Linked DNA regions of Homo sapiens. The protein of the gene in region 1 purifies or fractionates together with the protein of each later gene. This does not show direct contact. Each region holds a gene or a part of one and is shown on either strand. Other genes may lie near its edges.

Region 1 (5,319 bases):
AGGTACAGTACTGTAGGCCACCAGCTTTTTCATGAAATTGTGTGCTTTGGTATCTGTGTGCTTTCTCTCGTTTCCTCTGTATCTCTGTGTGTCATTCTCTATGTGTTACTCCTTGTGGGTCATTCTGTGGGACGCTCAATATCTGGGTTGGAAAGTCTGAGCGGATGCCTCTGTCTCTTCGTTTCTCACTTTGTATGTTTGTGAATGTGACCCCTGTGGGCTTGTCTCCTCCCTGGGGCCCTCTCTTCTTTCCATCCCATTTTATTTAATGTGGGTCTTCTATACCCATTCAGTCCCGGTTTCCCCTCTCCATATACTCCATCATATGCTAGGTTTTGCAAAGAGATATTATTACCAATGACAAAATGTATGCTAAATTTCAGTTTTGTATTTATTAAATATAATTTATATTCTTTAGTCCCAATGTTTGGAAAAAACAAAGGTAGGTGAAATATTATATTTCTCATTTAAAGATAAACAGAACCCACATAAGTTGCTTTTCTCCTTATAAAACTCTCAATTGTTTATTTTTTCTTAGTCTTTTGATAAAAAGAAATTTTGTCACTGACTTAAATATAATTTTAAGCAATTTTATCAGTAGAATTTTGTTACCTGTCACCAAAAGTCTATGTACAACTAAACAGAATGTGTATAACTTCAATTTCATCCTTGAAACCAAATATTTTCATTCATTTCAGTGTAATATTTGGGACTTGTTAACCATTAGGGTGATTTTATTATTTATTTGTCGGATTTACTGTTACTTATGTAATGAAATCATAGCTTGGAAATAGTTTGATTATCTTCTGGGAATTGTGAACAAGCACAAAACCTGCAGTGTCCCTCATTTTTTAAATGGGTCTAACAGATGTTGGTTCCTCCTATCAATTTCCTGTGACAACTCAGAGGCCCCGTCTATTTTACAAAGTTACAAGTTCTGGAGAGAAGCCTGTCTTCAATTTTCATTCCTGATACATTGTAGGAACTTTGGTCATAAATATTTCAACTTCAGCCTCTCTTCCTCTGAAGTAGGATTTATAGGACCTTTGCTATCTTGAATTACAGTGATATTTACTTAGAATGGTTTAATTCCATTTAAAACTTTTTTTTTGCTGCTCAGGGTAAATTGACTTGATAACAACAGAGTGACCCCTCATGTTTGCAAATTCCAGGGGCCATGCCTAGTGACTGCATAATAGGAGGGGCTGGAGCCCTGATCCCTGTCATAAGGCATGTCAGAGCCTGCATCCCTAGATTTCAGGGATAACTCTCTGAAGCCTGGAAAGGGTCAGTATTCCAAAGGCTGCGTCCTCTCATCCTCTCCATTTTGGTTAACCCACTGCATTGTTTTAGATTCCTCTACATGAGAACTGTTTGTACTTTTTCCACTTAATGTTTTTTTAATCATTCAAGCTTCATAAATTCAATCCTGTTTTGATGCAAAGGTTGAAGGTTTAATTCATCTAAGGAAAAATGTGCTATAATTTATGATTTTTTTTTAAGCAAGTTTGTTCCGAGTGCAAATTGGGTATAGTGTGTTTTGGCAGGTCTGGTGAAGAAATATTATTTGTGGTAGAGTCCACTGCCGATACAAAAAACAATGTTATGTTCTCAGTGAGGTATTACCACTACAGACTGGCCACTAAAGTGTTTGTGTGGGTTAATACTGCATTGGATCTATAGGACTTAAGTAGGAGATTTGTATTTACTGTTGAGTGATATCCTTGCCATTGCAAGGGTCGTTTTCATTTTTAACCTTCCTTATGAGAGCTTAGACTAGCTTTGTAAAATAGAGGGAGGCTCTGAGTTGTCACAGGAAATTGATAGGAAGAACCAACATCTGTTAGAGTGGAGTCTGGTCAGAATGGTCATATCATACTGTTGTTAAGACCTTACCCGGCTGGGTACGGTGGCTCATGCCTATAATCCCAGCACTTTGGGAGGCCACATTGGTTGGATTGTCTGAGCTCAGGAGTTCGAGATCAGCCTGGGTAATGTGGCAGAACCGTATCTCTACAAAAAATACAAAAATTAGCCAGGTATGGTGGTGCACGCCTGTGGTCCCAGCTACTTGGGAGGCTGATGTGAAAGGATTGCTTGAGCCCCAGGAGGTCAAGGCTGCAGTGAGCCGAGATTGTGCCACTGCACTCCAGCCTGGGCGACGGAGTGGGACCCTGCCTTAAAAAAAAAAAAACATCGTAGCACTAGTTTGTTAAGATGACAGATTTGGAGCAAGTAGATTTTCTTTAATTTTTACTGTGGTTTCCTTCTTTCTCCTATTCCTCCTTCTTTCTCTCTTTCAGGTTAAGAGAGAGTACTCTTTTTAACCTAGGAACCACTTTAAGATTTTAGAAATAAGAATATGTTTCTACAGACCTGAACATTAGTGGTTTTTTTTTTTTTTTTTTTTTTTTGAGACAGAGTTTTGCTCTTGTTGCCCAGGCTGGAGGGCAATGGCACGATCTCAGCTCACCATGACCTCCGCCTCCCAGGTTCAAGCAATTTTCCTGCCTCAGCCTCCTGAATAGCTGGGATTACAAGGCATGCACCACCACGCCTGGCTAATTTTGTATTTTTAGTAGAGACGGGGTTTCTCCATGTTGAGGCTGGGCTCGAACTCCTGACCTCAGGTGATCTGCCCGCCTTGGCCTCCCAAAGTGCTGGGATTACCGGCGTGAGCTACCGTGCCCGGCCGGAACATTGGTTTTTCCCATGGACACTCCAAGGTCAACTGTTTTCTCCTTATGGTTTGGCATCCACAAAGCAGCAGGAATCTTCCAAGTACTGGTTCAACTACTGCTTTTACTAACTCCTTACCCACGTTATCCTTCCCCGTCTCCTCTCCCTCCCTACTCATACCCTTGATATCACTTACTATGGGACATTTGCAGCTCTCATTCAAAGCCATCCTTTAGATAAGACCTGAACATGCTTAAATTTGTTTCAGAGGATCTGTTGAGGATCTTTCCACCAGGGAATCCAGAGACTGATGTGGGCAGGAGAAGGAGGACAGTTTGATTCAAATCTCTAAAGACTACTTGGGAAATTATCCAGGCCAAAGTTGTCCTCCTCAAGGGGGCAAATCTCAACTGAAGAGTGTGTAACATTTATTTGTATTGCCCACCTCCAATTTTTATATATATGACATTTTCCCCTACTCAATTTATCCTTTCTTTCCTCTGGTGTTGGACTTTACCTGTATCTTTTTTCCTCCCTCATCACTTTCTTGCTGTTTACTTTTATTCCCTGTTTCATTCTCCAGTCCAGATCAGCAGTGATTGGGAAGGGTGGGTTGGGAGCAAAGGTGACACATCTCAGCATTGTCCTTGGGACCAGGCTGCTTGCTGTTTCCTTCCCCACCTCCCTTTATCCCGTTACCTGCACAGGGGAAGATAATCAACCCTAGACTTTCTTCCTTCATTTTGCCTACAGCCTATTCATCTGATGCTCATTCTGTCCTTCTGCTCCAGTACATCATAACTTGGGGTGAAGACCATGGGATTTAGAGTTGGATTCATGGTTTGACCTCTGGCTTTTCTGCTTGTTACATTGTGACATTGGCCACCTTAATTTCTAAGCCTAGATTTCTCTATGGGATCCCTGTCTTTGGAATTATTGTGAGGATGAAACAAGGTAATTATTGTAAGGGGCTTCTTATAGTTTGTGGTTCTTAGTAAGCACTTAATAAATGTTTCTGGCTGTTATTATTGTCACAATCATCATCATTATCATGGTTATTCAAAGTTCATCAAATATTTATTGAGTACTTCCCCTGTGTCAAGCGCCACGCTAAGAGGTAGGAGTAAAGCAGAGAGGAAGTCTGCAACCTCACCGAGTTTTAGTTGCTTTATTTCTTCTCGTTTAGGTCACAGGAATCTTTCAAAGAGTATAGCCCACAGTTTTGTGCTCCATTCCCCACCCCACTCCCAGAATCCTAGATTAAAATCTGTACAAATGGCCGGGCGCGGTGGCTCATGCCTATAATCCCAGCACTTTGGGAGGCCGAGGCGGGCAGATCACGAGGTCAGGAGATCGAGACCATCCTGGCTAACACGGTGAAACCCCGTCTCTACTAAAAATACAAAAAATTAGCCGGGCGTGGTGGCGGGCGCCTGTAGTCCCAGCTACTCGGGAGGCTGAGGCAGGAGAATGGTGTGAACCCGGGAGGCGTAGCTTGCAGTGAGCCAAGATTGCGCCACTGCACTCCAGCCTGGGTGACAGAGTGAGACTCCGTCTCAAAAAAAAAAAAAAAAAATCTGTACAAATATTTCCACAGGAATATTGTTATATGTTGGGAGTAAGTTTCATTCTCCTATTAAGACTACTGTTATGTCAAGCAGTAATAAGGACTTTAAAGAAAAATAAAATCAGATGTGGAGTTAGTGATGGAGAGTGCTGTTATGATAGATGAATCTAGGAAAGCCTCTTTGGAGATGTGATACCTGAACAGAACCCCGAATGATAAGAAGAAATACCAGTGTTTTAGGAGAGATTGTCCTAAGCAGAGAACAGCAGCTGCAAAGACCCCAAGACACATACACTTGGTTATTAAGAATGGGAGCAGCAAGGAGTATGGCAAGAACACAGTGAGTTAAGGAAGAATGAAATCTAATGAGGCCATGCACTTTGGGAACTAGAGTATGTAGAATCTCATAGGCTGTCACTGGGACTTGAGTTTTCCCTTGAGTGTGTGAGGAAGCCCTCAGAGTTTGTGACTGACTTGTAGAGGTTCTAGTGGAGGGGATCAGAGTGGAAACAAAGAGACCAGTTAAAAAGGTATGGCAGCATGAATAAAAAAGTTTTGAGAGTATTCATTATGCCTTCCAAATAAAAAACTCTTTGGTTCATAATTTGTTCATAAATTAAGGACTGGCTACACTGTACTATTTAAAAATGTTAAGAAACATCAATAAGTAAAAATGTTAGGAAGAGATGATAAATACGTAAGTATTATATCTAACTAAGTCTTTACTAACTAGTCACATTATTAAACAGTGCAAGGATCAAGAAAAGTTAAGCGTTGAAAAATAAATAAATAAGTTATAAATAAAATAAACAGCCCAAGGAAATGTTCCAGTCCCCATAGGTAGACTCGGGGTCATCTTCTTTATTTAAATCTTTATTTAAATGTGGATAGCATCCCAAGAGACTTGGGTCTACACTAAGAATATTCAAATCCATGTTTCTGAAACCATCAGAGATAGAAAAAAAAAGTAGCGAATATCCCTTTTCAACTGGAATAAACTTGTCTTAATTCTAGAACTTTTCCATACCAATGTTTTCATGCTTCCTTTGTATTTTATCTTTTAGCTCATTATC
Region 2 (4,677 bases), on another chromosome or scaffold:
ATAACAACTAGACCAAGAGAAAGGGAGAGTAGTGATAAATGTCCATGTTTTCGAGTTGAAAAGTAACAATCAGTGTATTACAACAGATGGATTTGATGTCAAATTACAAATGCTGAGAACGTTATATGTAACTGACTTGCCAGAGTAATTATACAAGGCAAAGAAAGGAAAGGCATCTAAATAGGAAGGGAAGGGGTGAGATTGTCTGTGTTTTAGACTCCACAAAAAACCCATTACAGCTGATAAACACTATATTCAATAAAGTTGAGAGTTACAAAATTAACATTGGTTTCCATACACCAATGACAAACTGTTATCTGAAAAATAAGGTAATTCCATTTATAATAGCAACAAAACAAATATATAAGTAAATCAAAGAGCAAGGAGTAATTTTAATGAAGGATGTGAACGATTTGTATACTGAAAATTATAGCACATTGATGAAAGAAATTGAAAGTGACAAATAGAAAAAGTCCTATATTTGTCAACTGAAAAAATTAATATTGTCAAAATTTCAATGCTACTCAAAGCATTCTACAGATTAAATGCAACCGCTGTCAAATTCCAATGTCATTCTTCACAGAAATAGAAAAATTAGTCCTAAAATCTGAATGGAACCACAAAAGATGCTGAAAAACCAAAGCAATCTTTAGCAAAAAGAACAAACCTGGAGGCATCAGACTACCTAATCTTTGACAAAGCAAACAAGAAAATGGGAAAGGACACCCTATTCAACATATGCTGCTGGTATAATTGGCAAGCCACATGCAGAAAAATGAAGCCGTTCTTCAAAGGTTAAATACAGAATTACCACATGACTCAGTAAATTCACTCCTATGTATACACCAAAAATAAATTAAAACAAATGCCTTACACATAAAGGTATTTATAGCAACAAAAAGTAGGAAACAACAGAAATGTCCATGAATTTTGGAGTGGATTAATAAAATGTGGTCTGTCCATAAAATAAAATATTACTTGGCAATGAAAAAGAAAAACATATTAATACATGCTCCAAAAAGGATGAACATTGAAAACATGATAAATGAAAGTAGTAAGTCACACGTAACTATATTATTATGATTCCACTTACATGAAATGTCCAGAATAGGCAAATCCTTCCAGAATAGGCAAATTCTTAGGAAGTAGATGGATGATTGCCTAGGGCTGGGAGAGGTTTAAAGGAAGAATGGGGAAAATAGGGAAAGATTGCTAATGGGTGCAAAGTTTCTTTTAAGGAGCATAAAAATGTTCTAAAATCGTGGTGATTGTTTAACTAGTTAATACACTTAAAAAACTGAATTTTATACTTTAAATGAGTGAATTAAATAATATATAAATTGTATCTCAATGAACCTGTGAAAAAAGTTAAAAAATATGTGGTATGCATAAACAAAAAGTTCTTCATTTTATTTCCTAGGGTTTTGGGGAAAAGGTGGTGTTTGATTATATGAGTAAGTTCTTTAGAGGTGATTCAGGAGATTTTGGTGCACCCAACACCTGTGCAGTATACACTGTATACACTGCACCGGGGCAGGAGCTGGCTGCAATCCTGTGGCCCCAAATGCCCCCTTGCTGATGGCCTCGTGTTCTGGGTGCGGAGCAAAGAGGAGCAGGTGTTGAAGGCACCTCAGGCAGGCCCTGGGCTCGGTGGGCGTCTTGTGCTCCGCGATTTTGAGGCCATTTGCAGCCAGCTCCGTCAGCCCGAGCTCCCAGCTGCAGCTGCTGCCATGCACAACAGCACCGCCAGGAGTGTCCTGGGGGCTTTTTTCAAAGGAGGCTGTCAGCATCCTCAAGTTCCAGACGCTTAGCCCCAGTCCTCCTTTAAGAGGCTTTTTTTTTTTTCACCAGAGGCTTCTCAGTGGCTTGAAAGCTCAGCTGACTCCCACGAAGTTTGCCGGAACTCAAGGCTGTCAGTGACATTCGTGGCGCCAAGACTTAAGCAGGCGCGTTGCATGCATCGGCCAGTGTCTGTGCCACGTGCCCTGACGCCACCTGAGATAAGCACGCCGCACGCCGCACGCCGCACGCGCACGCCGCACGCGCACGCGCACGCCCGGCAGCAGCTTGCTGGCTTGTAACGGCTTGCACGCGCACGCCGCACGCGCATAACGGTTTGGCCGGCCTGTAACGGCTTGCACGCGCACGCCGCACGCGCGTAACGGCTTGGCTGGCCTGTAATGGCTTGCACGCGCATGCTGCACGCGCTTTAACGGCTTGGCTGGCCTGTAGCGGCTTGGCTTGGCTTTGCGTTCTTGGCTTGGCTTGGCGTTGGTAGCTTGGATTGACGTTTCCTGCTTGGATTGACGTTTTCTCTCTCGTGTTCCTTTGCTGGGCTTGACCTTTTCTCTGCTGGGTTTGGCATTCCCTTGGGTGGGCTGGGTGTTTTCTTGGGGGCGGGGGTTGGCCCTTTCTGGGGTTGGCCCTTTCTGGGGTGGGCGTGGGGTCGCCCAGGGGGGGCGTGGGCTTTCCTCGGGTGGGTGTGGGTTTTCCCTGGGTGGGGTGGGCTGGGCTGGAATCCCCTGCTGGGGTTGGCAGGTTTTGGCTGGGATTGACATTTCTCTTCAAACAGATTGGAAACCCGGAGTTACCTGCTAGTTGGTGAAACTGGTTGGTAGACGCGATCTGTTGGCTACTACTGGCTTCTCCTGGCTGTTAAAAGCAGATGGTGGTTGAGGTTGATTCCATGCCGGCTGCCTCTTCTGTGAAGAAGCCATTTGGTCTCAGGAGCAAGATGGGCAAGTGGTGCTGCCGTTGCTTCCCCTGCTACAGGGAGAGCGGCAAGAGCAACGTGGGCACTTCTGGAGACCACGACGACTCTGCTATGAAGACACTCAGGAGCAAGATGGGCAAGTGGTGCCACCACTGCTTCCCCTGCTGCAGGGGGAGTGGCAAGAGCAACGTGGGCGCTTCTGGAGACCACGACGACTCTGCTATGAAGACACTCAGGAACAAGATGGGGAAGTGGTGCTGCCACTGCTTCCCCTGCTGCAGGGGGAGCGGCAAGAGCAAGGTGGGCGCTTGGGGAGACTACGATGACAGCGCCTTCATGGAGCCCAGGTACCACGTCCGTGGAGAAGATCTGGACAAGCTCCACAGAGCTGCCTGGTGGGGTAAAGTCCCCAGAAAGGATCTCATCGTCATGCTCAGGGACACTGACGTGAACAAGAAGGACAAGCAAAAGAGGTAACCAGGCCTGGGCTGGGAGGAGGTGGGACGTGGGGGGATGATGGGGACATACCCTCCTGGCGGGGGAGGAGGGGGACCTGGCTTTCTCGCCTCCGCAGGCCTCACACCACCCTGGATGTGGAAACCTCAGAGAGGTCAGGGTACAGGGCCCTTTATGAACAGCAACACAAAAACAAAACTTTAGCTGATTTCCAATCATAATTTCCCTCATAGAACACTAATAGACTGTTTTAAAGTGATTTAACTTGCAAAATTAATTAAGTCAATGCAGCAGATTATTTTTAATCTACAGATTTTAAAACAATGTTCTATACATTATAGAAAAGTGTATATTGAGAACTAAGAACAAAGCCCCATAACACATCAACTTCAGGGCTAAATATTCTTCAAATAAAATCCAGTATGGATTTTATATCAATGTACAGTATGTAAATATGTTCTTTACTGAGGAACCTTAGAAGGAAACTGAAATGGGAAGATGGTTCCTGTGCTTGAACAGGAAGATTGAATTTTCTTAAGATGTGAGCTTTTTGGCTGGGCGCGGTGGCTCACGCCTGTAATCCCAGCACTTTGGGAGGCGGGCGGATCACGAGGTCAGGAGATCGAGACCATCCTGGCTAACACGGTGAAACCCCGTCTCTACTAAAAAATATAAAAAAAATTAGCTGGGTGCGGTCGTAGACGCCTGTAGTCCCAGCTACTCAGGAGGCTGAGGCAGGAGAATGGCGTGAACCCGGGAGGTGGAGCTTGCAGTGAGCAGAGATAGTGCCACCGCACTCCAGCCTGGGCGACAGAGCGAGACTCCCTTTCAAAAAAAAAAAAAAAAGATGGGAGCTTTTTCTATTTATCACTTTTACCTAAGCCAAATAAAAATAGCAAAGTTTTAGCGTTTTTAAATTACACATGCTGTCTTTTATTATTGTGATAAATTAATTTTTTGTAACAGAATGGAAAAAGTCTGCTTTTCCAGATATCAAAATGTGCATGTTATTTATTTCCACAAATTGTTTACTAACAGCTGAAAAGACATCAATGAATACAACAGAATAGGAAATTTAGAAATACCCAAATATATGTTAAGAATTTAGCGCTTGATAATGGTGGTGTTTTTTATTATTTGAAAAAGATGGATTGTTCATAATTCATGTTTGGAGAAAACTAGCTAGATTTTTATGTCACAAAAATAAGAGTATAGATTAAAAATTTTAAATATACAAAAAGAGAAACATACCAGAAGAGAAACATACAAATGCCTATTTATATATGCAGATATATATTTATATATATACTTTTTTTTGGATGGAGTCTGACTCTGCTGCCCCGGCTGGAGTGCAGTAGTGCGATCTCGGCTCACTGCAACCTCTGCCTCCTAGGTTCAAGCAATTCTCTGCTTCAGCCTACTGAGTAGCTGGGATTACAGGCGCCTGCCACCACGCCTGGCTAATTGCTTTGTATTTTTAGTAGAGATGGGGTTTCACCATCTTGGCC

What was found.
Region 2: the proteins of FGD4 (region 1) and POTEE purify together in Homo sapiens (affinity purification with mass spectrometry, with the first as the bait; one large-scale study listed by BioGRID). This does not show direct contact.

What each region holds. Positions count from the first base shown.
Region 1 is NC_000012.12:32,576,650-32,581,968, forward strand, and holds part of FGD4 (FYVE, RhoGEF and PH domain-containing protein 4), read left to right. Parts: intron 1-2,947; exon of another isoform or gene 2,948-3,096; intron 3,097-3,102; exon of another isoform or gene 3,103-3,633; intron 3,634-5,310; coding exon 5,311-5,319. UniProt on the Homo sapiens protein: Activates CDC42, a member of the Ras-like family of Rho- and Rac proteins, by exchanging bound GDP for free GTP. Plays a role in regulating the actin cytoskeleton and cell shape. Activates MAPK8.
Region 2 is NC_000002.12:131,215,738-131,220,414, forward strand, and holds part of POTEE (POTE ankyrin domain family member E), read left to right. Parts: intron 1-1,851; 5' UTR 1,852-1,946; exon of another isoform or gene 1,947-2,572; 5' UTR 2,573-2,665; coding exon 2,666-3,186; intron 3,187-4,677.